Regions from separate parts of the Homo sapiens genome. Here all the other regions are linked to region 3. The links come from fine-mapping of genetic effects on gene expression. A gene starts in region 3. Each other region holds a variant in brackets. All regions are shown on one strand. Distances are from middle to middle. Region 1 overlaps GNA12 (G protein subunit alpha 12). Region 2 overlaps GNA12 (G protein subunit alpha 12). Region 3 holds the start of GNA12 (G protein subunit alpha 12).

The links.
Region 1: its variant is fine-mapped to the expression of GNA12 in left ventricle (GTEx, PIP above 0.99).
Region 2: its variant is fine-mapped to the expression of GNA12 in whole blood (TOPMed, PIP above 0.99).

What each region holds. Positions count from the first base shown.
Region 1 is chr7:2,817,632-2,828,376 of GRCh38, forward strand. All of the region lies in intron 1 of GNA12 (G protein subunit alpha 12), which reads right to left. Among named protein-coding and RNA genes, the nearest start is that of GNA12, 21 kb to the right of the region's middle. RefSeq lists enhancers at 3,376-4,065, 4,066-4,755, 6,830-7,472. The variant C/T (reference allele first, on the strand shown) is at 5,626.
Region 2 is chr7:2,766,057-2,776,801 of GRCh38, forward strand. The region is part of intron 2 of GNA12 (G protein subunit alpha 12); the gene reads right to left. Among named protein-coding and RNA genes, the nearest start is that of GNA12, 73 kb to the right of the region's middle. RefSeq lists a silencer at 5,390-5,534 and an enhancer at 6,871-6,920. The variant C/T (reference allele first, on the strand shown) is at 5,381.
Region 3 is chr7:2,839,731-2,850,475 of GRCh38, forward strand. It overlaps GNA12 (G protein subunit alpha 12), which reads right to left and starts at 4,578. Exons shown (of 4, transcript NM_007353.3): 1 at 4,123-4,578. The coding sequence starts at 4,431. RefSeq lists enhancers at 3,885-4,702, 4,665-4,959, 4,942-5,071 and silencers at 4,052-4,101, 4,442-4,771.

The DNA.
Region 1 (10,745 bases), 22 kb before region 3:
TGGCCACTGCTGTTATTCCCAATGCTGAAAACAGCCCCTGGCACTCAGATGTTTGTGGAACAAATGAATGAATGCAGCTGATCCAAGGTCACTCAGGATTCTGGTCTAAGCAGTTTGGTTCCAGTATTAGGACTGGGGAGGAGAACGGAACATAGAAGAAACATCTAAAGTTATGACAAATGTTGTCATCTATTAATTGTGAATAAGGAATTCTTTGTTAATTATCATCTCCTCCTTCCATTCCTCCTTCCCTCCCTTTAGTTTTATTTTTAAGTCTCCATAAGTACACTACACATGAATTATTAGTTCCAAATGTATTAGAACACCTGCTTTCATAGTTAGGAAACTAAACAAAAAAAGAAGAAAAAGTACTAGCACACTGTAAGATTGCTCTTAATGTTTCAAGTGGGACTGTAGTTCACTATAACGTATTAAAATTAATTCAATGAACACGGAATGACTCCCTACACAGCTAACAGGCATGTCAGGGTTTTGTAGGTTCTGGGGGGAGTCATCATTAAGAACATCAATTATTTACATAATAGTGTAATTCTGCCATTAAAAAACTGGCCATCTGACATAGAACAAAGTTTGTTTACCACATCAGTACTGACATCTGGGGGCTGGGGAATTCTGTTTTGGAGCGCCTCACACACTGCAGGACAGTCAGCAGCATCTCCAACCATCAGATGCCGGCGGCACCCATCAGTGTCACAACCAAACACGCCTGCAGACGCTGCCAAATGTCCCCCTGGGGAGCATAGTCTCTCCAACGGAGAACCACTGATTAGAGGCTAGACAAACTACAGCTTGTAATAAAGAAAATACAACTTATAATAAAGAACAGGAAGCCTGGTGCGGTGGCTCATGCCTGTAATCCCAGCACTTTGGGAGGCCAAGGCACACAGATTGCCTGAGGTCAGGAGTTCGAGACCAGCCTGGGCAACATGGTGAAACCCCGACTCTAATAAAAATACAAACAATATTTGGGCATGGTGGCGTAGCCCTGTAGTCCCAGCTCCTCAAGTGGCTGAGGCATGAGAATTGCCTGAGCCCAGGAGGTGGAGGTTGCAGTGAGCCGAGATCGCGCCACTACACTCCAGCGTGGGTGACAGAGACCCTAACTTGAAAAAAAAAAAAAAAAGCAAAGGACAAACGAACAAGGGAGGGAGGCGACTCAAAGTGGCCTCTCCCACAGGTTTCGCTTGCCGTTTTCACTTACTCTCTCTGACCAGCCTCACAACCCTTTCATGGTCCCCTGTAACTAGAAGGCTGTAAGGCAGGCCACAAGCCCGTGGCACGGGCAGAATTCTAAAGATGGCCGGGGGTATTCATCAATTGGGAACCTAGGTGAAAGGTCTTTGCAGAGGTAATTAAGGCTACCAATCAGCTGAGCTTAAAATAGGGCGATTATTCTGGATTACCCTGCGAGCCTGATGGAGTCACCAGTCCTTACAAGCAGATGTGGAAGGTGGAAAAGTCTGGCAGGTTCCTTGTGAGCCGCTCGCTGCTGGTTCTGAGTTGCAGGGGCTGCAAGCAAGACTGGAGGGAGGCCTCCAGGAGCCGAGGGAGGTCAGAAAAGAAACCGGACCTCAGTCCTACAGCTGCAAGGACCTGAACCCTTGCCACAACCTGAATGAACTTGGATGCCGATGCATTCCCAGAGCCTCCAAAAAGGAACACAGTCCGGCTGGAACCTTCCTGTTAGTCTCATGACACTCAGGGCAACCAACTGAGCCACACTGTGCCCAGACCTCTGACCCAAGCAACTAGGAGCTAACAAATAAATGTTTTAAGTCCCGAAGCCTGTGGTAATTTGTTACAGTGGCAACAGAAAACCAAAACAGCTGTGGAGGTGTATGTGACTCATTACTGAAAGGTGAGTTTATAAGTGAGAAACACAATAACCAAAAGCAGTCCCCTTAAGAAATTCCCTAGTCTGCATAAAAGACAAATAATCCAAATTAAAAAAATGGGCAAAGGATCTGTATAGCCATATCTCCAAAGAAGATACGCAAATGGCCCATAAGCACATGAAAAGATGCTATACCTCATTCACCATCGAGGAAAGGCAAACCGAAAACGGGATGGCTGGAATTCAAAGGACAGATAAACACAAGCACGGTTAGACCCCAAAGACGTTATATTGGTGGGAACAGAAATGTTGCGGCCAATTCAGAAACACTCGGGTAGCTCGTCAAAATGTTAAACATAAAGCAACCATTTGACTCAGCAATTCCACTCCTAGGAATACACCCAAGAGAAAACATGTTCACACCAAAACCCGCACATGGATGTTTATAGCAACATCATTCATAACACACAAAAGATGGAAAGAACCTAGATGCCACTGACTGAGGCACGGATAAACAAAACGGGGCGTAGCAAAAGGGAATGCTATTCGGCCGCTTAGAGGGATGACGATGCCACGCTACAGCATGGATGAACTTTGAAGAAACGATGCTAAGAAGTCCGTCGCAGAAGACAACATACTGTATGATTCCATTTACATAAAATGTTCAGAAAAGGCAAATCAACAGCGTCGAGAGAAATCCACGGTGTCGAAAGTGGGCTGGTGGCCGCCCGGGGCTGGGGCTGGGGCAGGAGGAAAATGTGCAGTGGCTGCAGGGTTTCTTTCTGGGGTGATGAAAATGTTTTAAAAATTGACTGTGGTGATGGCTGCACAGCTCTGTAAATAGACTGAAGTCCACTGAATTGTAGGCTTTAAATGAGGGCATGGTATGATATGTGAGTTATAGCTCAATAAAGCTTTTTTTTTTTTTTTTTTAAGCTGAGGCCAGGCATGGTGGCTCATGCCTGTAATCCCAGCACTTTGGGAGGCTGAGGTGAGAGGATCGCTTGAAACTAGCCCAGGAGACATGCAAAACCTATCGCTACAAAAAAATAAAAAATAAAATTAAAAAAGCTAAAAAATTGAAAAAGAAAGTCCCAAGCGCTGTAAAGCACAGAGCACGGAAGTGACACACAGTGTGGCAGCTGCTTGTTGTCCAGACCTGCCCCACCGGCCAGTCACCAGCTCCTGACTCACTGACCACCCTGGCCTCTGCCCTGTAATCTTCCAAAGAGGAAACTCCAACTGTGTCTTTTAAAACTTTTTACTTTAGAGACAGGATCTCACTCTGTCACCCAGGCTGGAATGCAGTGGTGCAATCACAGCTCTCTGCAGCTTTCAAGCTCCTGGACTCAAGCCATCCTCTTGCCTCAGACTCCCATGTAGCTGGGATTACAGGCATGCACCACCATGGCCAGCTAATTTCTAAAAATTTCTGATAGAGATGGGATCTCACTATGTTGCTCAGGCTGGTCTTGAACTGCTGACTTCAAGAAACCTCCTGCCTTGGACTCCCAAAGTGCCAGGATTACAGGCGTGAGCCACCGCGCCCGGCCTACATCCATGTTTTCATCAACATGGACAAAACTCCACAGGAATCACTCCCATTTCACAAAAATGTTGTCTAGGTGAAAGATGCCAATCAATTATTCTCTGGTTAATGTTCTGCTTATTCTTGGCTTAAGAATTTTTGTGATGACGCTTAGATTACAGATGTTCTGCAAGACAGGCTGAGAAACAGAATCATTCCAATCACTCCTGCTGTATCCTGAGGGGAGACTCTCCGCCTGTTCAACACAGGGACACGCTGCCTCCCGTGGCAAGGTGACTGTCTTGCTGCTGACTCGGGCAAAAAGACCATGAGAATGAATTCACCAACCAGGGTTCCCTTCCCTCGTAAATACTGTGAGAAAATGGATGTCAGTCTCCAGCTGACCGCAGAGAAATCACGGCCAGGTGTTGGCACTTACAGAGAAGAATGAATACAGAACTGCTTTAATCATCCACTCAGGAAACTCCCCAATTGTATCAATGACTCTATATAAGGAAGCGAGGCTTGCAACTCCAAACGAACTCACTGGGTGGCCCCAAGCAAAACAATTCACCCCAAACGGTGTGCCCTATGGACAAGAGAAACTCCTGCAGTTATTCTATTTTCTCAGCTCCCTGCTCCTCGTTTTCCTCCACCTTAGCAAGACAGTGATGAACAATGCTAGGTAAGCTCTTTCCCTTCCTGTGGCAAGTCTAGTAGCAAAGGGCTAGTTGCCAGGAAACATGAGGTTACACCATATTCCTGCTTAGTGGAATCCTGACCTTCATGTTACTAAAACATGAAAAATACTTTGTTTACAAGATCATCAATATTAAAATTTGGCTTTCAAGTTCCCTAAGACCTTTTTCCTGTATTTATTACAAGAATTTATTTATGCATCCAACAAATACTCAAATGCCTACTATGTGCTGCCATGGTGCCAGGCCCTAGGGACACAGGGGAATCAGACCAGGCCCTCGCATGCCCGCCCAGGCTGACATTCCAGGATGTGATGACTAGAACTATGTAAAATGTGATATACACATCAACAAGGGTGATTCAGATTACCACCAACATTTCTTAACAAACCTAGCTAAAAAACGTTAGAATGTGCTTAGCCTTCCCATTCTCTTTTAACTTTTTATCTAAACCTACAAATTCTGAAGCTTCTGTGGGAAGCTATGCCTCCTCCGAGATGTTGTTCTTCGTACGTTTTCAACCATACAGCGGCAGCGACTGGAGTGGTTGTTTTGCATGTCAGGCTTCACTGGGCAATTTCTTCAGAATTCAGAGATCTACCTACTGGAACTAGCATCTGTAGACAGTCCAGTAACTAAGAGTGGTAGTTCTGAGTTAGGTGGGCCTGAGACCTGGCACACTCTTAACCTCCCCAATCTAAGACATATCTTATGGAAGTCCCCTTCTCAAACCCTGATAAAGATTGAAGGGCCAAGCGTGGTGGCTCTCGCCTGTAATCCCAGCACTTTGGGAGGCCAAGGTGGGAGGGCTGCTTGAGCCCAAGAGCGTGAGATCAGCCTCAATCAACAAAAAGAAAAAGGACTGCAAGCCCAGGGCAGGAGGACTGCTTGAGCCCAGGAGTTTGAGACCAGGCTGGGCAACATAGTGAGTCCTTGTTTCTACAGAAAAATTAGCCAGGCGTGGTGGTGCGTGCCTGTGGTCCCAGCTACACAGGAGGCTGAACTGAGAGGATCACTTGAGTCCAGAAAGTAAAGGCTGCAGCGAGCTATGATCGCCCCACTGCACTCCAGCCTGGGCGACAGAGTAAGACTCCGTTTCCAAAAGAAAAGAAAGATTTAAAGACAATGACTTGGAAAGGAGTTGAAGGAGATAAACACTCAACCCCCTCAGTCCCTAAGAGAGTCTGCTCAGCCCCCTCCTAGATGTGATAAAAAGGTGCTCCCTAGATTCACTATCAGTCCTCTGCCCATTCCCTGGCCTCCCATTACTGGAATTCAACATGGTTTAGGAGATTAAAGACACTGAGTCTTTCAGGGACATTACAGTTACCAACCACTCTGATGGCCTTGAAGAAAGTAACTTTAATTCTCAGTAACTATTTGTATATTATTTGTAACTAAAAACGTGGGGTCCGAGGCATCATCTATGGCAGGCTTTGTTGGAGGGCCTTTTCCAGGCTTCCTGGTGTAGTCCAGAGACGGCCCCATACCCTGAAGAACCCTTCTGTCTGCTTCATCCAGCATACACACAAACCCAAGGGACC[C/T]CGCCTTCCCCAGCTCTACAGAGACAAGAGGGAACTATTTATATAAAAAGGCTACTTATCTGACTGAAGGCTGATAGCAGTAAGGGCAAAAGCGTGTTCTGACACTCCAACTTCAACCGCAGCCCCAATTCAGGACTTTGACGGCATATGCAGGAGGAGTGCTTGGGGAAGGTAACAGGAACAGAGGGCATAAGGAAGAACAAATGAGAACCTTCAAGAATTAGACAATCATTCTTTGGTCTTTCAAGCATGCTAATAATAACCCTCTGCAGATTTAGAAAAATAAAACTGTTCGGGAAGAGGCCAGTCGTTGCTTAAAAGAATTAGAACAATTCGTTCAATAAGCACTTAGGAAGTGTCTGTTACAAGCTGGAATACAGGAAAAATAAAAATGCAATACTCAATGTCAAAGGATCTTTCATTCTAGTTGGCTAGGCAAGCTAAAAAAAAAATTAAAAATTAAAAAAGCATGTTGCAGACATAATAAAGCACAAACTACCTACTAATATCTATAAAACCCAATGCAAATGAGTAAACTTCATAGAATAAAGATCATGCAGTAAAATTACTTAGAGAAAGAAGCAATGTCTTTTCTAAGACTCTTTTTCCCATGAAAATAATGCGCATTCTAGAAAACAGAGATAAGGGCAATAAAAATAAATCCCCTTTAATTAGAGAGAAACGCTCATTACATGTTAGTGTCATTACCATATGCCACCACCATTCTTTTTGCTCACATTCAAAACATGGTTCCTAAAAGATAGTTGACTCCTTTTCCAGTTGAACAGATCACACCCATGTCTGCCTGTCTCAAAAATGGTATTTTCAACATCAACACTTTCACAACATTTCTAGGATCTGACCGCTTCCCAGCATCTCCACTCCTAACACGCTGGTCCCACAGATCAGGATGACAGCCTCTCACTGCCCCCACGTCCACCTGGTCTCCCTCAGTGAGGGTGGCCAGGGCAACCCCGTGAATGTCCAAGTCAGATCCTGCCACTCCTCTGCAGAAATCCTCAGGGACAAAGAGCCCCTCACACACAGAGTTAAGGCCCGCGTCTTCCCAGTGGCCTGCACCCGCCTCTGCCCATCCAGGGGTCTCCTCCCTCACTACACAGCCATCACACTGGCTCCTCTGGGTCTGCGGAGGCCTCTGCACTTGGGGTGCTCTCCCCATCACCTCTGCAGGCGGCTCCCTGCCACCCCTGACATGGACACGCTCTCGCCCTGCTTTCTCCTGCCCCCAGCACTTGTTGCTTTCTAACATTTCATAAGACGTGCCTGTTTACCCTGTGGATCGTCTGTTTCCCACACTAGAATGTAAGCTCTACATGGCAAGCATTTGTTTCCAATGATGTATCCCGGGCACTTGATATACAGAAGGTGCTCGATAAATATCAGCTGATTCACCGACTTATTAAAAGCTGTGTAGTGCCCATCACACACCACAGTTCAATCAGTCAGCCCCAACAGGTGGCGATTAGGTCATTCCAGGATTTTAACAATGCAAATCAAACCGCAATAAAAAAATCCCTGCTGCTCAAAGCGTAGCTGAGGGCCGGTGGCAGCACAGCCATCACCTAGGAGCTCACAGACCTCCCAGGCCTACTGAATAGAATCTGCATTTGAACAGCATGGCCAGGTGACCACAGGCACAGGAAGTCCAAGAACCACTTTCCGACTAAAGACAAGGGAGGAGGCCCCTCTCCCTCAGGCCCCGTGAGGGTGAGGTCTGCACCTGCGGGTGGACAGACACCTGGCTTGCCTCCTCCTAGATCTCGCTCTGGGTAGTACCCAAGACTCCATGACCATCTCTAAACATCAGACTGCCACCAAAAGACAGGTTACAACAATTTACATCCTAAATCCAGGCACCCAACAGGAAACAAGCAGGACACTCAAATTAGGAACTAATCACAAAGGTGTGGGGGAAGCCCGAGAAACAAGACAGAAGGAATCCTGGGGCGTGGGAGGGGAGAAGAAATACTGAACCTCACTCTCTCCCCTCCCTCCCTCCGAGCTCTTGCCAGGACTTCCCACTGGCCAACCAGAAGCCAGAAAGCACAACACTCGCTGCTACAATCTATACAGGTCACCCCAAGAGCAGAGAGCTGACAGAAGCAGGAGAGAGGGCGGGAAGGGGCGGACAGAAGCTTCCCAGCATGTGCGCCCCCAGCAGTGTATGAAGACGCTTTCCTCTTTTCCCTAAAGGGGTGTGTTTTCATTTCACATAATATGAAGACGCCATGAAGAAGATGTAAACTAGGGAAGGAGGTGCTGGAGAGAAGGGAGCTATCTCAGAGAGGAGGAGAAGTGCGTTTGTGCCATCATACAGCTACTGTGGTCATTTCTGGCTGAGAAGGTATCGAGCTGATGGGAGGCTGAGGGCCGCTATAGTTTTGTAAACAGGAAAGCAGCCTTATGAAAAATGCCTGAGAAAACGTGTGCTGGCGTTTGCGTCCAGGACACTGAAAGAAGGAGGATGCAGGACAGAGAAGCCAGGGAAACGGCTGTGGTGGGGCCGCAGACACAAAGCAGCTGCGGCAGCTGAAGAGAACAAGTCTTTAGAGTACGCTCATTCCAGCGTTCATCCCAGCATTCCCACCACCCAGGGGACAACCAGCACATAGAAAGACGCTCCACACCATATATCATTAGGGCACTGCTAATTAAAATACTGAGATGCCATTCCTCACCTCTTAGGGCGGCTAAAATCCAAAACAGACAATGCCACATGGTAGCCAGGAAGTGGAGCAACAGGAACTCTCATTCCCTGCTCTGGGAATGCAAACTCCGGAAGACAGTTGGGCAGTTTCTTACAAAACTAAACATACTCGGGCCGGGGGCGGTGGCTCACACCTGTAATCCTAGCACTTTGGGAGGCGCAGGCGGGCAGATCACGAGGTCAGGAGTTTGAAACCAGCCAGGCCAACATGGTGAAACTTTGTCTCTACTAAAAATACAAAAAATTAGCCAGGCTTGGTGGTGGATGCCTGTAATCCCAGCTACTTGGGAGGCTAAGACAGGAAAATCACTTGAACCTGGAAGCAGAGGTTGCAGTGAGCCGAGATCACGCCACTGTACTCCAGCCTGGGTGACAGAGTGAGACTCCATCTCAAAAAAAAAAAAAAAAAAACCAACAAAAGCAAATACTTGTACCATATAATCCAGCAATTAACTGCACTTGAAATGAGTTGAACACTTATGTCTACACAAAAGCCTGCACACAGGTGTTTACCACAGCTTTATTCATAAGTGCCAAAACTTAGGAGTCACCAAAATGTCCTTCAGCAGGTAAATGGATAAACAAAGTGTGGTATATCCATACAAAGGTATACAACTCCATAATGAAAAGAAATAAACTAACATGCCACGGAAAGACACAGAAACCTTAAATATGTATTGCTAAGTGAAAGAAGCCCATGTGAAAAGGCTACATATTCCTGATTCCAACTACAGGACATTCTGGAAAAGGAAAAACGATGGAGACAGTAAACGCTCAGAGGCTGCCAGGGGTTGAGGGGAGACAGGGAAGGAGGGATGAACAGGTAGAACAAGGAGGATTTTTAGGGCAGTGAAACTATTTTGAATGATGCCATAACGGTGGAGACATTTGTCAAAACCCACAGAACTATGCAACACAACGAGTGAACCCTAATGCAAACTATGGACTTCAGTTAATAATATATTCATATTCACTCACAACTTTCCCAACCCTAGCACACTAATGCAAGATGTTACTCACAGGGGAAAACTGGTGTGGGGGAGGCAGGCAGTATGTGGGAAATCTGTATTTTCTGCTCAGTTTTTCTGTAAACCTAAAATTAAGTGATAAAGTATATTAATTTTAAAAAAGTGAAGGAAGCCAGACACAAAAGGTCACATATTATATGATTCCATTTATATGAAATATTCAGAATAGGTAAATTCATGGAGACAGAAAACAGATTAGTGGTTGCCAGGGGCCGGGAGAAGGAGGGAATGGGGAGTCACTACTAACGTGTCCAGATCTCCTTTTGGAGTGATTGGAACGTTTTGGAATTTGATAGAGGTGGTGGGTGAACAACACAGTGAATGTACTAAATGCTACTGAATGTACACTTCCAGATGATTAATTGTATGGTATGTGAATTTTACCTCGATTATTTTAAAAAACAGAGTGAAAACAGAAAGGTTGTATTAACGAAACTTCAGCTGGTCAGGTGAAGTCTGTGATGTCGCGTGAGAATTCAAGCACTGTGGCCCGGACTGAAGGCACCTAAACTGAGGGAATAACCACCAAACTGACTGGAAGGGAACCACAGTGGCTTCTGCATAACCACGCTGAGGACAGTGGGGCTGGGCTGGTCCGTGAGCAGTGCAGAGGACAGAACAGGACTCCTGACTGCAGTGACACCAGGACATGACTTAGAATAGGGCAGATGGCAGGACCAATGTCAGAACCACTCAGAGAAAGGAGTTATAATGAAGGAAAGAATCACCTAATTATAAAAACATACCAAAGAAAATATTCATGTATATCTATCATGAGGTATTGCTAATTAACTACAAAAACATCGCGCAAATTTTTTTAGAAGACTCAATTCAAGATTGAAGTCTTTTAACCTACTTCAAAAACACCTACATTTGAAACATTCTCCCTACCCCCGATACTTTATTTAAAATTTTTTTTAATTAATGAAAGACTAGAAAAAGGGCGTCTTACTTTACCAGAAGAGTTCTAATTTGCTCCAGATAACAGGAAAGAACTCAGGCAAGTTGGTGGCTCTTTTCCTGAAGTTACCAAGAATTAAGAAACAAGACAAGTTTCCAATTAAAAAAGAAAATGCCGAAGATGTTGTGGTCTCCTTGGCAGATATTTACACATTCTAAAAATATTCAAGATTACAAAAATTGTAAAGCAAGATTCAAACCAGAAATTAAAACACCTACAATTCAAAATGAAAACTTCCTGAAAACTGCAGAGGAATACAGGGAGAAAAGGCTTTAAATAATCACTACTGGACAGCTAAATTATATTCCTAAGGATTTGTACTATAAAATAACTATCACCAATGCAGTTTCTAAACTAATGTTTGCTGTAGACAATAGTTATTTTTATTTTTTCAGAGACAGGG
Region 2 (10,745 bases), 74 kb before region 3:
ACCGATCTCCAAAACTTTTTCATCTTGCAAATGTGAAACTTTGCACTAATTAAACAACTCCCATTTCCCCCCATCTGCCCAGCCCCTGGTAACCAGCATTCTACTTTTTGTTTCTATGCATTTGACTACTTCAGGTTATCACATAAGCAGAATCATACTTCTGCGACTGGCTTATTTCACTTAGCATAATATCCTCAAGGTTCATCTCTGTTGTAGCTAGTATGTTAGCTGCAGTCTTTCCTTTTTAAGGCTGGCTAAAATTCCATTGTGTGTATGTACTACATGCTGTTTACCTGTTCATCCATTGATGAACATTTGGGTTGCTTCCGCCTTTTTTTTTTTTTTTTTGAGACGGAGTCTTGCTCTGTCGCCAGGCTGGAGTGCAGTGGTGCCATCTTGGCTCACTGCAACCTCCGCTTCCCAGGTTCAAGCGATTTTCCTGCCTCAGCCTCCTGAGTAGCTAGGATTACAGGCACCCACCACCATGCCCAGCTAATTTTTGTATTTTAAATAGAGACAGGGTTTCACCATGTTGGCCAGGCTGGTCCTGAACTCCTGACCTCAAGCAATCCACCCACCTCGGTCTCCCAAAGTGCTGGGATTACAGGTGTGAGCCACCGCACCTGGCCAGCTTCCACCTCTTAGGCATTGTGAATAAAGTTGCTATAAACATGGGTGTGCAAATATCTCTGAGACCCTGCTTTCCATTCTTCTGGATAAATACCCCGAGGAGGCACTATTGGATTGCATCTGGGTCTCTTCCTACTATATGGCTGTGCCATTTTACATTCCCACCAACAGTGCACAAGGGTTCCAGTTTCTCCATTCCTCACCAACACTTGTTATTTTGTTTTTCTTCTGATAGTAGCCATTCTAATGGATGTGTGGTAGTATCTCATTGTGATTTTGATTTGCATTTCTCTGACCATCAGGGATACTGAGATACTTTGCATAGGCTAGATGGCCACTTGCTTATCCTCACTGGAGAACTGTCCATTCAAGCCCTTTGCCCATTTTTTAATTGGGTTATTTAACTTTGCTTCTTGTTGAGTTGTAGGAGTCTTCATACATTCTGAATGTTAACTCTTTTCACATATATGATTTGCAAATATTTTTCCCGTTTTATAGGCTGCCTTCTCACTCTGTTGATTGTGTCCCTGTACCCACAAAAATGTTTACATTTGATGTGCTCCCATTGGTCTATGTTTTCTTTTGTTGCCTAGGCTTTTGGTATCATACCCAAGAAATCACTGCTAAATCCAGTATCTTGAAGCTTTCCCTCTATGTTTTCTTCTAGGAGTTTTAGTTTTCGTGATTATGTTTAAGTCTTTAAGCCATTTTGAGTTATTTTTTGTATACAGTATAAGAGTTGTGGTACTTAAAAAAAAATAGCTATGCTGCATTCCACTGAATAAATGTACAATCACTTATGTGACCCTTTCGATAGCCACCTGGGGGCATTTCCAGTGTTTTGCTGCCATCAACAACTGTGACATGAATACCCTTTATAGTACCCTCTCTCACACACAAGAACAACTGTTTCCCTGTCTTCTTATTTAAAATCAACTCTTGGCTGGCGCGTTTCAAGTTTTTTACTTCTTCATTTGTATTGTAACTCCTAACCTTTAAACCCTTAGCACCAGATATATTTTGGAATTCAGAAACTTTCAGATTTTGGAAAGATAACATGGTACATATGCTATGCATTACCAAATCCTCATCGTAAATAAAATCTGAGAATATTTCTACAATAACATAGATTTGTGTGTGTGAACAGTTGTACTAATGGAGACTATATTTTATTTTATTTTAGTTTTTGAGACGGAGTCACTCTGTCACCCGGGCTGGAGTGCAGTGGTACAATCTCGGCTCACTGCAACCTCCGCCTCCTGGGTTCAAGCAATTCTCCTGTCTCAGCCTCTTGTGTAGCTGGGACTACGGGCACATGCCACCATGCCTGGCTAATTTTTTTATTTTTAGTAGAGACAGGGTTTCACCATATTGGTCAGGCTGGTCTCGAACTCCTGACCTCAGGTTATCCACCTGCCTTGGCCTCCCAAAGTGTTGGGATTACAGGCATGAGCTACCGCTTACAGACCTAATGGAGACTATAAATGGCCACGGGTATGTGAGGCCAGGCTTTGCTACTAAACAAGTCCAAATTGAGTTAGATTAGGTTTTGCTGCCAAATAAGTGATCGGAAATGGTTTCTGTTTTCCAAGTTTAAATACAGCAAATGTAGTGACTAAGGAATTGCTAATTCAAACCTGGATCTCTCAGCTTCAAAGTCATGTCACTTCATCCAGTGAAGATCAGTAGCCTTCCTTTTTGAGGTCCTGGCTTAGCAAGCTACGTTTTTCCTAGTATTTCTCTGCTTCAGAGAACTCAGAAAAACACTAACTGCATTCGAGGACTGCGTGAAATGAAATCACATCCTAGAGTCCTGAGACATGCCCTTAAAATCATGGATGTAACACTCAGGAAAACAAAGGTTAGAGTAAAACCTAATGCTAATAAGTTTTCTTTCAAAATGGTTATAATGCAGTTACGTACATTTAGAAAATTAATTCAGTTATAAAATTAGGTAACAGGTGAATATGCTCTCAAGGTAAAAAAAAAACAAAACAAAACAAAAAAAAAAACAGTAAACCTATGGATAAAGGAGAGTTCATTCCCACTCATTCCCACAACTATTAATCACTGTTATCAACTTGGCATACACTTTTCTACCTTTGTTTCTGTATTTAATATGTGTATATTGTATGTGGAGAAATCTACACTTTAATGATTTGTTTGGTTTATATAAATGGGATAAACTACTACACATTGATTGTTTTCCAAGTTGGTTTTTACCCTTACCATGCCTTAGATATATTTCCTTTTCTTTGAGATGGAGTCTCGCTCCGTTGTCCGGGCTGATCTCGGCTCCCTCCACCTCCTGGGTTCAAGCAGTTCTCCTGCCTCAGCCTCCTGAGTAGCTGGGATTACAGGTGTGCACCACCACACCCAGCTAATTTTTGTATTTTTAGTAGAGACAAGGTTTCACCATGGTAGCCAGGCTGGTCTCGAACTCCTAACCTCAAGTGATCCAACCGTCTTGGCCTCCCAAAGTGCTGGGATTACAGGCGTGAGCCACCATGCCCAGCCACCTTAGAGCTGTTTCTGTGTGGACCTTCATTCCTTCTAATAGCCATCTGGTATTCTACTTAAACAGCATCACTGGCAGGTATTTACGTAGTTTTAATTTCTGCTACTACCATCAACATTGCAGAAACCATCCTCATGCACACCACTTCTGGGACATGTATAATTATGTCTGTAAGCTAGGTATCTGTAAATAGAACAGCTAGGTCAAAGAGTATCCATATTAATTTTTTAAAACAGCTCTGGCCGGCTGGGCACGGTGGCTCATGTCTGTAATCCCAGCACTTTGGGAGGCCGAGGTCGGCGGATCACGAGGTCAGGAGATTGAGACCATCCTGGCCAACACGGTGAAACCCCGTCTCTATTAAAAAAAATACAAAAAATTAGCCGGGCGTGGTGGCAGGCGCCTATAGTCCCAGCTACTCAGGAGGCTGAGGCAGGACAATGGCACGAACCCGGGAGGTGGAGCTTGCAGTGAGCCGAGATCGCACCACCGCACTCCAGCCTGGGTGAGAGAGTGAGACTCTGTCTCAGAAAAAACAAAAACAAACAAACAAAAAAAACACAGCTCTGGCCAAATTCTCTCCCAAAAAGGTTGTACCAATTTATATCCTAATGAACAAGGGTTTAAGATACCCACTTCTTTATACCCTTAACACACTGGATATTATCAATTGAATTTTTTTCTGAATTTGATGGGTGAAAAGTGATATGTCATTACATTTTAAGTCTAAGTGTTTTTGTTTTTTTAAATCATGGGGGGGCAAGTACTTTTTCAAAATTGCTTTTATAAAATTAAAGGTTTATAATAGGAAGTTACAATAAAATAGATCATAGTGACATGCAGAGCTAAGATTCAATTCAAGCTATAGACTGGCCTGGTACTGTGAGGAAAATAAAATATATCCTCAACATTATTCAACTGCATAGATAGCAACAAATAAACAAACCTACAATGTATGACTTTACTGAGGTTCACTGCCATAATATACTATAAACAGGATAACCATATGCCCCACTTGCCCTGGAGAGTCCCAATTTGAGTCAATCATCTTGGCAAAATTGTTTAATAGGGTCTTGTTTTATTTATAAACATGTCCCGTTTGGAAATTAAATTAAATGATCACACAATTTTAAATTTAGGCTCAAATTGAGGCTCAATAGCCTCTAGAACCATATCAAGCTCAAAGAGTTCAATTCTGACATAGTTCAGCTAGGCTTGTGACAGGGCAATGCTTGTCCATTGGAGTTGGCATTAGATTAAGTTAGAGTTAGCTAGGCGTGGTGGTGCACACCTGTAGTCTCAGCTACCCAGGAGGCTGAAGTGGGGGAAATCTCTTGAGCCCAGGAGTTTGAGGATGCAGTGAGCTACGATAAGCGTGCCTGTGAAAAGCCACTGAGCTCCAGCCTGGGCCACATAGTGAGACTCCATCTCAACAACAATAACAACAACAAAACAAAACAAAACAACACACAGAAAGAAAGAAAGAAAAAGAACAAACAAAAACAAAGCAACATGGATGCTTCACTGGGCAGCAGAGCTAATGGGATCCTGTGCTTGTTGCTTTGTGTTTCCACGTAGGACGATTACAAATCAGAGTTACTGAAACCGAATGCCCCTTCACTGTATACCATAGGAATACTGGCACTGCCTAAGTGCAAGGCCATCGTGCAAGATTATGGCAATGTTTTAAGATCATCTAAACGTGGACCTGGGGGTACTGCAAGCGCCAGGCTCTGATGACTCCTTGCAGAGCAAATGGACAGGGAACAGACTTAGTAAACCAAATTATTAAAATCAAAGAAAAGGCCAGGCGCCGTGGCTCACACCTGTAATCCCAGCACTTTGGGAGGCTGAGGTGGGTGGATCACTTGAAGTTAGGAGTTCAAGACCAGCCTGACCAACATGGCGAAACCTCGTCTCTACTAAAAATACAAAAATTAGCCAGGTGAGGTGGCAGGCACCTATAATCCCAGCTACTCGGGAGGCCGGGGCAGGAGAATCGCTTGAACCTGGGAGGTGGAGGTTGCCGTGAGCTGACATGTCGCCACTGTACTTCAGCCTGGGCGACAGAGCAAGACTCCCTGCCACTCAAAAAAAACCAAAAAACCAAAAAAACGAAACCGCACATAGTGAACTTGCCCAGTCTGATGACTTCTGACATATGCATACAGCTGTGGGACCATCATAACAGCCAAGATCATGAGCAAACACCCAAACAACTCCCACTGTGGC[C/T]TTATCAGCCCTTCCCCTCCCCTGCACTCCCTTCCTGCCCAGGCAACCCGTGGTCGGCATCTATCCCTCCATGTTGGTCTGCATATTCTAGATTCTCATGTAAGTCAGATCTTAGAGGACACTCCCTTCTTTGTGTGGCCTCCTGCACTTGGCACAATTCTTTCCAGATTCGCCCATATGCTGCAGGTTACCAGGTGCTCCCTTTCCTGGCTGAGCAGTATCCCCACAGAAGGGTGCACCCCAGTCTGTTCATCCATCTGCTTGTTGATGGCCACGTTCCCAATGTTCAGCTGCCATAAACATGTGTGTGCAAGTCTTTGTGTGGACAAATATTTTCACTTCTCTTTGGTAAATATCTACATGTGGAAGGGCTAGCTCATGTGATAATTGTATGTTTAACTTTTAAGAAAGTGCCCCGCTTTTCCAAAGCAGGAGTACCATTTCACATTTCTACCAGGGGTGTGTGAGAGCCTGAGTTCCCACCCCCGCCCTCACTGTGCCTTGGGTGGTCGCCTTCCAAAGGGCAGCCTCCTAGGAGAGCATGTGGTGTCTCACCACGGTGTTCAACTGCATGTGTGTCATGACTGATGACGTCGACTGAGCATCTTTTCATGTGTTATTTGCTTCAGGAATCTCTTCTTTGTTCAAATCTTTTGTCCTTTTAAAAAAATTGTTTTCTTGAGTTTTGAGAGTTCTTTACATATTCCGGATAATCTGACAAAGGACTCATATCGAGAATTCCCAAGAAAATGACCAACAACCCAACAGGGCAAAAGATTTGCACAAACCTGTTATAGAAGAGGATATCCCACTGGCCAACAGATGTACAAAAGGTGCCAAACATGCTGGGTGCAGTGGCTCACGCCTGTAATCCCAGCACTTGGGGAGGCAGAGGCAGGCGGATCACGAGGTCAGGAGCTCGAGACCATCCTGGCTAAAATGGTGAAACCCGTCTCTACTAAAAATGCAAAAAATTAGCCGGGCGTGGTGGTGGGCACCTGTAGTCCCAGCTACTTGGGAGGCTGAGGCAGGAGAATGGCGTGAACCCAGGAGGCGGAGCTTGCAGTGAGCCAAGATCGCACCACTGCACTCCAGCCTGGGCAACAGAGTGAGACTCCATCTCAAAAAAAAAAAAAGAAAAAGGTGCCAAACTTATTTAGTCAGGAAAGTTCTTACTTAGAAATGCAAAGTAAAACATCAATTGATACCCACCAGGAGGCTTAAAATCAAGAGGACAATGCCAAGTGTTGGTTAGAACGTGGACTAACTGTCCCACACTGCTGGAGAGACTATAAACCAGTACGGCCAGTTTGGAGAAATAGTTGGCAAACCCAGCAATCCCACTCCTAGGTATATTTCCAAGAGAAATCAGTGCATATATCCATTAAGAGACCTGTCCAAGAATGTTCAAAGCAGCTTTACTCACAGTAGCCAAAAACGAGAAACAAACACCATGTCTGTGAACAGGAGAAGAAATAAATTATGGTGTATTCATTTAATGGAAGGCTATAAAGAAAAAAGAAGAAAATACCAATCCACGTAGCAACACAGATGAATCTCTCAGTCATTAAGCAAAGAAGCCAGCTAAACGATTCCATTTAAACAAACTTCAAAAACAGGCAAAACACTAATCTACAGTGATGGAAGTGAAACTAGCGTGGTCACCAGGAGGAGTGGTATCAATGGGGAAGCAGCGGGAGGGACTTTCTTGGATGCTGAAATGTTCTTTCACGTGGGTGGTGGCTGTGTGAGTAGATACATACGTAAATCTCATTGTGTTGTATACACCTAAGATTTGTGCATTTTGCACACAGAAATTATACTTCAATTAAAACAAATAAACAAGGCTGGGGGCGGTGGCTCACGCCTGTAATCCCAGCACTTTGGGAGGCCGACATGGGTGATCACCTGAGGTTGGGAGTTTGAGACCAGCCTGGCCAACATGGCAAAACCCCTTCTCTACTAAAATACAAAAATTAGCCAGGCGTGGTGGTGGGCATCTGTAATCCCAGCTACTCGGGAGGCTGAGGCAGGAGAATTGCTTGAACCCGGGAGGCAGAGGCTGCAGTGAGCCAAAATCACACCACTGCACTCCAGCCAGGGCGACAGAGTGAGACTCAGTCTCAAAAATAAACAAACAAACAAAACCAGAATGAGATACCTCTACACGGCCACCAGAATGGCTATTTGAAAAAGAGGACAAGCACTGGTGATGAGGTGGAGTAATGGGAACTTGGCCTCTGCTGGTAGAGCACAAATACAAACACTGTGAAAAATCCATGAACACTGAACCCAGGCACACCTGGATGCCCCAGCAAGTCCACCCCTGGACAGCCCTGAGGGAAATGCCTACATCTCTTCACCAAAAGACAGGTTCTTGAATACCTACAGTAACATTTTTGTAATGACGCTGAGCTGGCGTCTACCCGGACGCCCATCACCAGGAGGGCAGGGAACTAAATTGCGGGACATTCACAAAATGGAATTACCATGCAGCAACAAGGAAGAACGTGCCGCAGAATTGGAAGAACCGCACAAAACGAAATGGCGACGAGAAGGAGCCAGTAACACAGGAGTAAATACCGTGTGAGGCCACAGATGAAGCAGCAACGCAGAAATACCCATTCTACAGAACAGCTGGTGTTCACGGTCAGAACTGGTTACTTCTGGAGAGCAGAAGGTGGTGTGAAGATGAAAGGGGTTCTGGGGCACAGGTCATTGTTTCCTGAGCTGGCGGCAGGTCACACAATCTGCTCAGTTTGTGAAAACTGAGTTAATATAGATGCACTTTTATTTCTATACATGTATATGCATATATACACACATGCATGCATATATATGTGTGTATATATATGTAATTCTCCAATAAAAACATTTTTTAAATGAAATAGGGAAAGGTAATAGGTAGTGGTGGGTGCGGTTTTGACTTTAATCAAGATTGTCAGGTAAGATTTCATGAAGATAACATCTGAGTCAAAACCTTGATGAGATAAAGGAGGAAGTGCATTCCAGGCAGAAGGAACAGCAAGCACAAGGGCCCTGATGGCGCTGGGAGGCCCTGAGTGTGCAGGGAGCAGCAGGAAGGCCAGTGCGCCTGCAGCAGTGACAGAGAGGAGGGGAGCAGGAGATGGGCTTGCCGAGGCAAAGGGGGGGTCCAGGTTGCTAATGTGTCGAATGCTTTAATGATATAAGGGTCAAAAAAAGTACAAGGTTTGAGAACCTACAGTCAACACGTGTCACTGAATCTTCATTCCTTTTGCACTTACAGGTTTGTCTTCCTTTTTATATAACTTCTTTCAAAGGTAAATAAAATCAGGCACGTCTAAGAATAAACATAAGTACAAAGCCCAGGGTACTTGTTTTTCCCCCCTTTTAAACACTGTCACATATTTACGCAGCTATCTGTGTTACTGAGCCACCTTCTTACCTGGGGTTGGGTTGACTCATGCACAGTGGTTGGCACAGCAGGCAGTCAAGATATGAGAGTCAATATTAATAATATTCTCAAAAGAGTATGAATTGCACAATTTAATTTACCGACATCCCTTCCCAATTTGGTGGCACCAGACGTGGCTTAAAGAGTTAAACAATTTGGACTTTTCACTATGTGATGAGTTACTTCCCCTCTACTGAGGATGACTAACATCTTTCAAGTTTTTGGATAGACAATACATGCACAGAGTACCAAATTCGTAACAGGGGAGGAGGACGCTAGAGAAACCAGTGTCTCAGCTCCCTAGCTCTCCTTTCTGTAGGCAGCCGCTGCGCCAGCTTCCAGGGTGTTGAGGTTTGATTTGAATAGGCTTAAGATATCCTTTCTCTGGTGCTAGTATGCTGCTTTTAATTTTGCAGCCTCATTTAGGGTTAGATACGGTCATATTAAGTTGATGGGAAGGAGACAGAGCCAGCCTGAATGTCCTGGGTGATGAGGATTGAAGTCATGGGGTCTAAAAAGGTTCTGGAAGACGAAGAGTGGGAACGACAAACCGAGAGGAGGAAAATCATCTGCAAATAAAGCCTCCATTGCTGATCCCTTCTATCTCAGCCACAGCAGCTCAGGAGGAACGTCGTGCCCAGTGTCTCGAAAAGGCCTGGAGCCGAAGCACTCTGCCAGCTCTTTTCATAAACGCAGAAGCAAAACAGAGCTGCCTGGTCTATGGGCATCTGCGAAACTTGGATACTAAACGCCTGTGTCCTACCCAACAGCCTGTTCTAACGTGACGGGCTTTCTTAGGAGAAGATATCTGCCATCAAACTCTGCCTATGAATTAAAGCAGAGGGCCAGGCTCCGAATCACGTCACAAGTGGAAGAGACCTCAGAGGCTCATCAGTGGCTCTCAATACAGGCCAGGCTCAGAATCACCTAAGGAGCCTCCCACAGAGCTGGCAGAGTCCTCCCCTCCCTTCATCCCTCACACTACCTGGACAGGTTACCCAGGGGCACAGGGCCCAGACCCGTACTGTGGAAAAGGTCCGTACAGCTAGGCTTAATGCAGCCATTCTGCCTGCCAGCTGGAGAGACAGAAACTGCCGGTGGCTATGGGGCAGCTCCCCTGGTGGGAAGGCCCTGGACACAGCTGGCAAGTATAGCCCTGGGGGCTAACAATGGGTCTTTTGATTTTTTTTTATGAGACTGGGTTTCACCCTGTCATCCAGGTTAGACCGCTCATTGCAGCCTCAACCTCCTGGGCTTCAGCAATCCTTGCTCAGGCTGGTCTCTAACTCCTAGGCTCAAGTGATCTTCCCATCTCAGCCTCCCAAAGTGCTGGGATTACAGGTGTGAGCCACCGCGCCCAGCCAACAAATGGGTCTTAACCAGAGTGAACACTGACTCTGGACTGGGCTTTGCTTGCCTGGTGGAAGAGGCCAGTGCTCAGAGTGCTATAGAAAGAACAGAACAGAAGACACTGCTCGGATCTGGACACCGACCGTCATTTCCTCAGACCAGGGGACACACTGTACATCCCACGGTGTCCAACAACGGGCAGAGACGCATCCTCCTCGGAGTGAGTCTGACAGAGCAGCGGAACGGGGAGTTAAAACCCTGGCTAAGACAGGGGCGATGAAAGCATGAAGGGCTGGCCCACATTCAACGGCTAAAGGACGTCCCCATTCGATGTTCCTGTTTTGTGGATCAGGGAAAGAGGGGCTGGGAAGGAGGCTGGTGTGACCACACAATTCTTGCCGAGAGAGGAGCAGGCTGGCATAAGGATTACACATTTTTCTTCCTTCCTTGCATCACCTCAGCTTGGCCACCCTGCTCCCACTTGGTGCAGTGATCCTAGGACCAGGTCTTGCAACCCCAGTGCTGGAAGCAGAGCTGGTTCCTAAGCAAGAAACTGTACTGTTTTTAAACCTTACGTCG
Region 3 (10,745 bases):
GGGCACGGCGTCTCACATCTGGCACTTTGGGAGGCCGAGGCGGGTGGATCACGAGGTCAGGAGTTGGGGATCAGCCTGGCCAACATGGTGAAACCCCGTCTCTACTAAATACACAAAAATTAGCTGGACGTGGTGGTGGGCGCCTGTAATCCCAGCTACCTGGGAGGCTGGGACAGGAGAATCGCTTGAACCCCGGGGCGGAGGTTGCAGTGAGCTGAGATTGTGCCACTGCACTCCAGCCTGGGCGACAGAGCAAGACTGTCTCAAAACAACAACAGAATAGATTATTCACTGCCAGGGTCTGGGACAGGAAGGGGAGAGAGTGGCTACAAAAGAGCAACATGAAGGGTCCTTCTCTGATGGAAAGGCTCTGTATCGTGACTGTATCGACGTCAATATCCTGGTTGTAAGATTGTGCTATCTAGTTCTACAGAACATAATCACTGAGGGAAAGCTGGCAGAGGGTATGTGGGATCTCTACTATTTCTTACAACTGCATAGGACTCCAGAATTATCTCAAAATCAAAAGTTTAATTTTTAAAAAAGGCATGTTTAGTTCCTAGCTCTGCCATCTGCTAATTAGGTAGCTGACTTTGAACAGATTTTAATGTCTCTATCCTCAATTTCCTCATTCACTAAATGAGGTAATACCATCTGAAGCATTATGAAAATTCAACACCATATTTGAAAGGATCAGGCACGATGTGTACAGCACACAGTCCGTGCTCTAGAAGGAGCCTGTCAACACTAACCCTCTATATAGCCACAAGTATTATTCTAAATGGTATCATTCAAATGTCCAGTACTAAAGGCACTGCAGAGCAATTTATTTAAAGTCCCTTCCCTGGCCAAGTTTAGTATTTCACACATGTAATCCCAGCACTTTGGGAGGCTGAGGCAGGTGGTTCGCTTGAGTTCAAGAGCTCAAGACCAGCCTGGGCAACATAGTGAGACCCCATCTCTACAAAAATGAGCTGGGTGTGGTGGTACACACCTACAGTCCCAGCTACTTGGGAGGCTGAGGTGGGAGGATTGCTTGAGCCCACGAGGCGACGCAAGGCCACAGTGAGCCATAATCCTGCCACTGCACTCCAGCCTGGGTGACAGAATGAGACTCTGTCTCAAAAAATAAAAATAAAAAAATAAAATAGTCTCTTCTCAAAGTGATCTGTTCGAATAAAAATGCGGGGGTGGGGGCTGAAGAGGAGGAAACGATTTTTGGTTTTAAATTGAAAGATGAATTTCTAACTTGTTATTGAAATGGTCACGACACATGAAGTGAGTTTAATATGGAACTATAATTAGTAAAAAACAAAGCTGGAAAGAAGAACTAGGATACCAGTTAACACATTTTGTTTCTGCTGATAAGAAAGTCAGTGGAAGTTAGTGTTTCTATGCATCAGGAGGTTGAGTTTTCTTTTTTTCTTTTTCTTTTTTTTGAGACGGAGTCTCGCTGAGTTGCCCAGGCTAAAGTGCAGTGGTGCGATCTCGGCTCACTGCAAGCTCCGCCTCCCGGGTTCACCCCATTCTCCTGCCAGGAGGTTGAGTTTTCTAACACGCACTTCATACAGGGATTTAGATTTCAGATTCTATGTTTCCAAATACTTTCTCCATCTACTGAGTTGGAAGAAACTAGAGACAGTCAAACTGCTATACTTTTATGCCTGCCTGGTTCTGAGGTCTGGGCAAGCAGCAACAATAAAATCAGGATCTTTAACAGAGAAGTTACAGGGCAGGCCCTGAGACAGCCAAATGCACTTGAACACAGACGCTCCCAGTGAGCTAAGCTGGGCACCTAGTCTTCAAAGTTCACGAAGTATCTGACCAGAGCTCTGACGCACCGAGAGGCTTGGAAAGAGGTAAAATGAAAAAGGGTGTTTTATCAAATTATTTTCTTCCCTTCACAATCCTAAAGGAGCTCTATTAAAATGAAACATTTCCATGAGAAGTATGTCAAGTGCGAATACTGGCCTGGAAGTCTGGAGGCCAGGATTCCAGCACAGAGACCCCAGGAAGGAGTCACTTCATCTCTAGGGCTGAGGCAGGAGTCCTTATGGGTAAGTGATACAAATGTACCCGATAGGTTTCTACGGGGCTTTGCTAAATTTAAAATCTCCCAGGCACCATAAAACCTAGTCTCCAGGCAGGTTTTCTGGCATGGCAAACTTCTCTCCGACTCTGCTTTGAGATGATTGTCCTCGCCTCTAACTTGGTTTCCCCAAAATGGGCTGGGGAAAAAGTGGTGAGGGGACAAGGAAAGGGTAGAGAGGTAGGGAGGGAGGGAGAAAGGAAGGGAGGAAGGAAGAAAAGAAAAAAGGAAGGAAGGTAGAAAGAAAGGAAGAAAAGGAAGGCGGGAAGGAAAGGAAGGAAAGGAAGGAAGGGAAGGGAGGAAGAAAAGAAAGGAAGGAAAGAAAAGAAGGAAAGGAAGGAAGGAAAAAGGGAGGGAGGACAAAGGACGCTATCTAGGTGTAAGCAAGGCTGCACTGTTCCCTCATCATCAGTTTCCTCCAGATCTTCCTTGAGGCCCTTTAACACAGGCTCACGGTACTGAGAGACTGGAACCCCGACTTTATCAACTCTATGGTTCTTTTATTTTTTTTCACTGCCACTCAGGCTGGAGTGCAGTGGCCCAAACATGGCTCACTGCAGCCTCAACCTCCCAGGCTCAACCAATTCTCCTACCTCAGCCGCTCAAGCAACTGGGACTACAGGTGCATTCCACCATGCCCAACTAATGTGTTCATTTTTGTGGCACTGAGGTCTTGCTGTGTTGCCCAGGTTGGTCTCAAACTTCTGGCCTCAAGTGATCCTCCTGCCTCAGCTTCCCAAAGTGCAGGGATTACAGGCACGAGCCATCACACCTGGCCGACTTCTACAGCTTCTTTCACAAATATGGCGAAGAGAAAAAAGGAAGCAAGAGACAGGAGAATCTGGAGATTCATTGCAATGCATGTCGAGTCACACAAAACAATTATGCCACAATGGAGGAATTCTGAACACTGGATATCTGGTGATAATGAGCTATTACTAATGTTTAGGTTTGCTAATGGTACTGCGGTTGTGTTTTTACATGGAGGCCTCATCTTTTAGCCACTCATATACATCCTAAAACGTTTCCTAATCCAACTACACAAAGTTGGATTTGCTTGGAGACCATGGGGAGGGCACAGGTGAATAGGATTGGCACAGAATTGATGACTGCTTTAGTTGGGCTGTAGGTACTTTACAGTCAATCTACTATTTTCTCTACTTTTGTATACATTTGAAGTTTTCGTATTAGAAAGTGTGGCTCACACCTGTAATCTCAGCACTTTGGGAGGCCCAGGTGGGAGGATGGCTTGAGACCAGCCTGGGCAAGAGAGTGAGAGCCTTTCTAAAAAAACAGAAAAGTAAAAAGAGACTCATGGCTGGTTCCCGTCCAGTCTCCACTGCTCTTCTTCTAAGCTCAGCCGGAGGGCACGGCCGGTTGGGCTCCTATCCCACAAATCTTCCAGTGGGAAATGGACAGATACCATTCTGCTAGGGCACATCCAGGAGGGGGCTAAGTGCCAAGCCCCCACTCCCCATCCCCAGAAGCTGGCCCGAGTTCCCACTCCCACGGTCCCCAGGCACCCTAGAGAGGGCAGAGGCAGACCGGGCGCCATGACTCATGCCTATAATCCCAGCACTTGAGGGAGACCAAGGCAGGAGGATCACTTGAGGCCAGGAGACTGAGACCAGCCTGGGCAACACAGCAAGACCCCATCTCTACAAAAAAAAACTTAAAAATTAGCTGGGCTGGTGGTGCGCGCCTGTAATCCCACTACTTCGGGAGGCTAAGGAGGGAGTAGGGCTTGAGCCTGGGAGGTCGAGGCTGCAGTGAGCTGTGAGGGCGCCACTGCACTCAAGCCTGGGAAACACAGCGAGACCCCATCTCAAAAAGGGCGAGACGGGGTGGGGCAGAGACGACGCCAGCAGGCCTCGGGGAATGGGTCGGGGGGGAGTGGGGTGCAGGCGGGGCTGGATCCAGCATCCTCGCCCCAGGGGTCCCCGCCCGCGGCGGCGGACCACGGAGGGGCCCGGGGCGGGGGTTAGCGCCCCGGCCCACCTGGGTGCAGGTGCTGGGCGGGGGGCGCGCGTCACCTTGAGGATGTTGTCGAAGATGGTGTCGCGGAACTCCAGCAGCGCCTTCTGGTCGAACTCGCGGCCGTGGATGATGCGCATCTGCTTGAGGAACGTGGACTTGCCGCTCTCGCCCGCGCCCAGCAGCAGGATCTTCACCAGGCGCCGGACCGCGCGCCGCTCGCGGGCCAGCAGCGCGTCGATGTCGCGGCTACGCCTCCGGGCCTCGCGCTCCGCGTCGCGCGCGCCGCTGCCCGCCCTGCGCTCGCGGGCCCCGCCGGCCTCGGCCGGCAGCAGGCAGCGGCTGAGGGTCCGCACCACCCCGGACATGGCCCCTCAGGCCGCGGCCGCGCCCCGCCGGCGCCCGGGGGCCATGGACGCTCCCGCCGGCGAGGGCGAGCCCGGGCCGAGGCACCGCCCCACGCCCCGCCGCTCGCCTCAGGCCGCGTCCGCCGCCGCCGCTGCAGTCGCTCCGAGGCCCGCACTCGTCGCCCGGCCGCCACTCGGGCCCGGCGGAGGGGCGGGCGGCGCCGCGTGAGGCCCGGCGGATTGGGCCGGCTGCCGTCCATCTGGCCGTGAGAGCCCTTCGATTGGCTCATCTCGCCAAGGGAGGCGGGCATCCCTTCCGGCCTCGGGGCGGGGTCGACGCCGAAAGAGGCGGGATCTTTGAGGTGAAGGCGCTTCTCATTGGACGCCCAGGCTGAGGTTCTTTCTTTCAGAATGAAAGGGAGGCGGGGTCGCCCGGGAGGCGGAGCGATCGTCCGCCATGGCCAATTATAATTGCTCTGAGTGGACATCAGACGTGCCCAACGGGCTTTGGATTGGGTGTTCGGGGGACGGGGCGTGACGAGAAGTGCCAGGTGTACAGAAAGATTCTCCCTTGGTTCCCAGATTGGGTCCGCCTGTGAGACCAGGACCTCGCGGAGTAGCCCAAAGGCTGGGAAATGCTGATAAGAGGTTCAGCTGCTCGTCGTATTCCCTCCGATGATCTTGTTTCTACACTATTTTCCTTCCAGAAACACTGGAGGGGGATGGGCCATAAATTTCAAACACATGCACCCTTTGAGAGTGGCATGGGCTTCTAGGAGGCTTTGCGAAAAGCTGACTAATCACTAAAATCACCAGAAGCTCCCCCAAAAGTCTTATGTCTCACAGTGATTGAGAGAGTGGGGTCTGGAGTTGCTGGGCCTGAGTTGGAATCTCCAGTCGACCAGTTACTAGGTGTACTAGTTGCATAACTTTTTTTAGCAGCTTTCCCCACCCCCCCCAACAAACCCTTTTGGATGTTCTTAGCTTCCGTTTCCTCATCTGTAAAACGGGGGTGTCATTGACGACATTGGTTATGGCTTGACATTGCTCAAATCGTCATGAAGATATAAACTGAGAACATGAACTTACCAAACACTTAGCACGTGAGCTAGCCCAAAATCAGCTCTTGATAGAGATCAGCTGATTACAGATTCTTGACTCTCCCAGATCTACTGAATCAGAACCTCCTAGAAGGAGCTCAGGTATCCCTTAAGATTAAAGGCGTGAGCCGCCGCGCCTGGCCCAGTGTGTAGTCTTTTATCTCTCGCCACCCCCCACCTTTTACCCTGAGTCCCCAAAGTCCAATCTCTGTGCGGTGTCTGTTAACTCTGCTGATTATTTCTTTTGCAGTGCCGAAGCTTTTTAGTTTAATTAAGTCCCATCTATTTATCTTTGTTTTTGTTGCATTTGCTTTTGGGTTCTTGGTCACAAAGTCTTTGCCTAAGCCAACGTCTAGAAGGATGTTTCCGATGTTATCTTCTAGAATGTTTATGGTTTCAGGTTGTAGATTTAAGTCTTTGATCTATCCTGAGTTGATTTTTGTATAACGTGAGAGACGAGGATCCAGTTTTATTCTTCTACATGTGGCTTGCCAATTATCTCAGCACCATTTGCTGAATAGGCTGTCCTTTCCCCACTTTGTTTTCATTTGCTTTGTTGAAGATCAGTTGGCTGTAAGTATTTGGCTTCATTTCTGGGTTCTCTATTATGTTCCATTGGTCTCTGTGCCTATTTTTATATTAGTACCATGCTGTTTTTGTGACGATAGCCTTATAGTATAGTTTGAAGTCAGGTAAAGTGATGCCTCCAGATTTGTTCTTTTTGCTTAGTCACAGATCTAAACTCCCCAGAAGGCTGGGCACGGTGACTCACAACTACAGTCCCAGCAGTTTGAGATGCTGAGGTGGGAGGATCACTTGAGCCCAGGAGGTCAAGGGTGCAGTGACCTATGATCGTGCCACTGTACTCCAGCCTGGACAACGGAGCAAGACCCTGTTTCAGAAACAAAACAAAACAAAAACCAACTCCCTGACAACCTTGAATGCACATAATATGTATTATTTGTCACTTGCTACAAATACTACAAATCATGCCATGAATTTGTATCACTTATGAGTCAAGATTTTGTAATCCTTGGAAAATGATTAGAAAGTCTTGCTTGTTTGTGGAAATGACCTCCCATAGGAGGCCAAATATGGCTGGGCACGGTGGCTCATGCCTGTAATCCCAGCACTTTGGGAGGCCAAGGCAGGCAGATTATCTAAGGTCAGGAGTTCAGGACCAGCCTGGCCAACATGGCGAAACCCTGTCGCTACTAAAAAATACAAAACTTGGTTGGGTGTGGTGGCGGGCGCCTGTAATCCCAGCTACTGGGGAGGCTGAGATAGGAGAATTGATTGAACCCGGGAGGCGGAGGTTGCAGTGAGCCGAGATCGCACCATTGCACTCCAGCCTGGGCAACAAGAGCAAAACTCTGCCTCAAAAAAACAAAAAAAAAAAAACAAAAACGGGAAGGCCAAATACTAGGTCTGGCATGGTAGCTCACACCATGTAATCCCAGCACTTTGTGAGGCTGTAATCCCAGCACTTTGTGAGGCTGAGGTGGGCAGATCACTTGAGGCCAGGAGTTTGAGACCAGCCTGGCCAACATGGTGAAACCTCCATCTCTATTAGAAATACCAAAATGAGCCAGGCATGGTGGTGAACGCCTGTAATTCCAGTTACTTAGGAGGCTGAGGCATGAGAATTGCTTGATCCCAGGAGGCTGAAGTGGCAGTGAGCTGCGATCACACCACTGCACTCCAGCCTGGGCAACAGAGCAGGACTCTGTCTCAAAAAGAAAAAAAAAAAAGAAAAAAAAAAAAAAGGCCAAACACTAGTATTGAAATAGAAGGGAGGAGAAATTGGAGAATCCAAAGAAAGCAATGTTTCTGAGACAGAAATAGGGAATTTTGAATCACTAAAGAGTGGACTAGAATTCAGAACAGGTTTTTGGCTCATCCAGTTCACACAGGGTTTATTCCTCATTCAGTTTTAAGAAATTAAGAAAAACTGATTCACAAAACAGTTTCAGCAAGTGCTCCAGACAGCACTCACAACTAACTTTAAATCCTTATAAATAAGCCAGGTATGGTGGGAGGCTGAGGTGGGAGGGTTGCTTGAGTCCAGGAGTTTGAGGCTGCAGTGAGCTATGATTGTACCACTGCACACCAGCCTGAACAACAGAACAAGACTCTGTCTCTATTTTTTTTAAATCTTTATAGCTTTATGCCTTGTGTTTATGTAATCATTAAACATTTTAAAGAGTTATTTACTTTTCTTTTTTTTTTTTTTTTTTTTTTTTTTTGTGATGCAGCTCTGTTGCCCAGGTTGGAGTGCAGTGGTGCAATCTCGGCTCACTACAACTTCTGCCTCCCAGGTCCAAGCTATTCTCCTGCCTCAGCTTCCTGAGTAGCTGGGATTACACGCACACACCACCATGCTTGGCCAATTTTTGTATTTTAAAAGAGGTGGGGTTTTATCACATTGGCCAGGCTGGTCTCAAACTCCTGACCTCAAGTGATCCACCTGCCTCGCCCTCCCAAAGTGCTGGGATTACAGGTGTGAGCCACCGGGCCTGGCCAAGAGTTACTTACATTTTTAAATGACACATTATGGCATTTTATGGGAGAAATTCTTCTGCTGTCGGCAATATTCGATTTGAGGATTTGACCAGGTCTCTGGACATCTCCACACGTGTCAATGGGCTAAGGTGCTTTAAATAAACAAGGTTATCTGCATAGTCCACAATAATCTCTTAATTATCCCTTCTGTTTGTACGGCATGCTAAAAGTTTTGAAGTACTTACAGGTGCATTATCTCATTTGCCCTCTCTACACTGCTGGGGAAAGGTGACTGCCTTACCAGTATCTGAATCCAGGTGGCTAAGCTCTCCTGGCAAGGGAAGTATGGTTAGTACACTGCAAACCCCGAACTGGAAGTCTGACACACAGCATTCTCTGTGTATAATAGGATGGAGAAAAACATGAGAACTTTGAAGTTTGGCTCCATCACCTACCAGCTGTGTGACCTTCAACAAGTCATACAGTATCTCTGAGACGTAGTTTCCTTGTCTGTAAAATCAGGATGAAAATAAAGCTGTACTACACCTTAAATAAGTTAATACAGATAAGGTCCTAGAACTGGACCTTAGCACATAACAGGCCCTCAGTAAATGGTCATATTGTTATTATTATCATCGTGGAGCTTTGGGAATCGGGTATTGCAAATTTAGAATAATAGTGGCAGGCTGGGGAAGAATCTATAAAGACAATACCTTGTATGGTATGATATTAAAAATTAAAACCTGGGAGGTGGTCTGGTCAAATAAATTAAGGTACATCCATATAAGTACAATAACATATTATTCCTGGCCAGGCATGGTGGCTCACGCCTGTAATCCTAGCACTTTGGGAGGCCGAGGTGGGCAGATCATCTGAGATCTGGAGTTTGAGACCAGCCAGGTCAACATGGTGAAACCTTCTCTCTACTAAAAATACAAAAATTAGCTGGGTGTGGAGGCACGTGCTACTTGGGAGACTGAGGCAGGAGAATCGCTTGAATCCAGGAGGCAGGGGTTACAGTGAACTGATATCGCACCACTGCACTCCAGCCTGGGCAACAGAGCGAGACTGTCTCAAAAAACAAACAAAATAACATATTATTCCTAAAAAGAATATGCAAGACTAAAATGTGTAAATAGATGGCCCACAGACATGCTTTCTTGGTCTACCAGCTGTTAAAAAAAATTGGTAGAGAGTAGGAGGAATAGACTGAATGTTCCTCCCAACTTGTATTCAGTTCCACCTCTGGAGCTAAGGAGAAGCCAGGAAGGGGGAGTCCGACAGCAGGGCCTGAAACCTTCATGTGACACGGTAAGCTCACCTGAAATCTCTAGGAAAGGAAGCAGCCACAGGGACTCTCACTCTCCAGTGGGCCAGCAGTGAGGGGATCAGGAACTCAGAGGCCTGGTATAGGGCCCAAGACGCTGGGATTCCCAATAGGAACAGGATCCCCTTAGGTCCCATGCATGCAGTCTCCTTTTGAGGTCCTAGTAGGGCCTTTCTGGCCTGGGGAGAATGTGGGTGATATGGTTTGGCTGTGTCCCCACCCAAATCTCATCTTTAATTGTAGCTCCCATAATTCCCTCATGTTGTGGGAGGGACCCATGAGAGATAATTGAATCATGGGGTGATTTCCCCCATGATTCCCCCAGACTGTTCTTGTGGTAGTGAATAAGTCTCACGAGATCTGATGGTTTTATAAGGGGAGACCCCTTTCACTTGGCTGTCATTCTTCTGTTATCTGCCGCCATGTAAGAAGTGCCTTTCACCTTCCACCATGATTGTGAGGCCTCCCCAGCAACATAGAACTGTGAGTCCATTAAACCTCTTTCTTTTGTAAATTGCCCAGTCTCAGGTATGCCTTTATCAGCAGCGTGAAAACGAACTAGTACAGTCTGAGAGCTCTGTGGGGTGAGAGGACTGGGAGATTTCCCCCATCCCTGAACATGGGAGCTGCCAACAACTTCAGCTCTGAGACCTCTTCCCTTCCTCCTGGTGCTCATCACAGGAGTGGCATCCTGCCTGTTACCTTACCTTTCTCCACTGCATAGGAGACCCTAAAGGCTCCCCCTGAAAGCCAAAGAGCTATGAGTGAGAATAAGAAAATGTCAATAGACTTAAGGGGACCGAGGTGCCAGAGAGAAGAAGAAAAAGTAGGATATCTCACATAATGGTAAATGAATGAATGGAAACTTTATATCGCCATCATTGTCACCACCATCACTATCACCATTGTCACATCACTGTCACCATCACCATCGTGATCATCATAATCATCATCACCACCATCACTATCACCAACACCAGCACCATCATCATCATCACCACCACCATCACTGTCACCATCATCACCACCATCACTATCAGCATCATCACCATCACCATCATCACCACCACCACCATCATCATCACCACCTTCGCTATCACCATCACTATAATTACCACCATCACTATCACTATCACCATCATCACCACCACCACCATCATCACCACCATCACTATCGCCACCACCATAATCACCACCATCACTATCAGCATCATCACCATCACCATCATTGCCACCATCACTATCACCATCACCATCATCGTCACCATCACTGTCACCATCACCATCAGATCATCATAATCATCATCACCACCATCACTATCACCAACACCAACACCATCATCATCATCACCACCATCACTGTCACCATCATCACCACCATCACTATCACCAATACCAACACCATC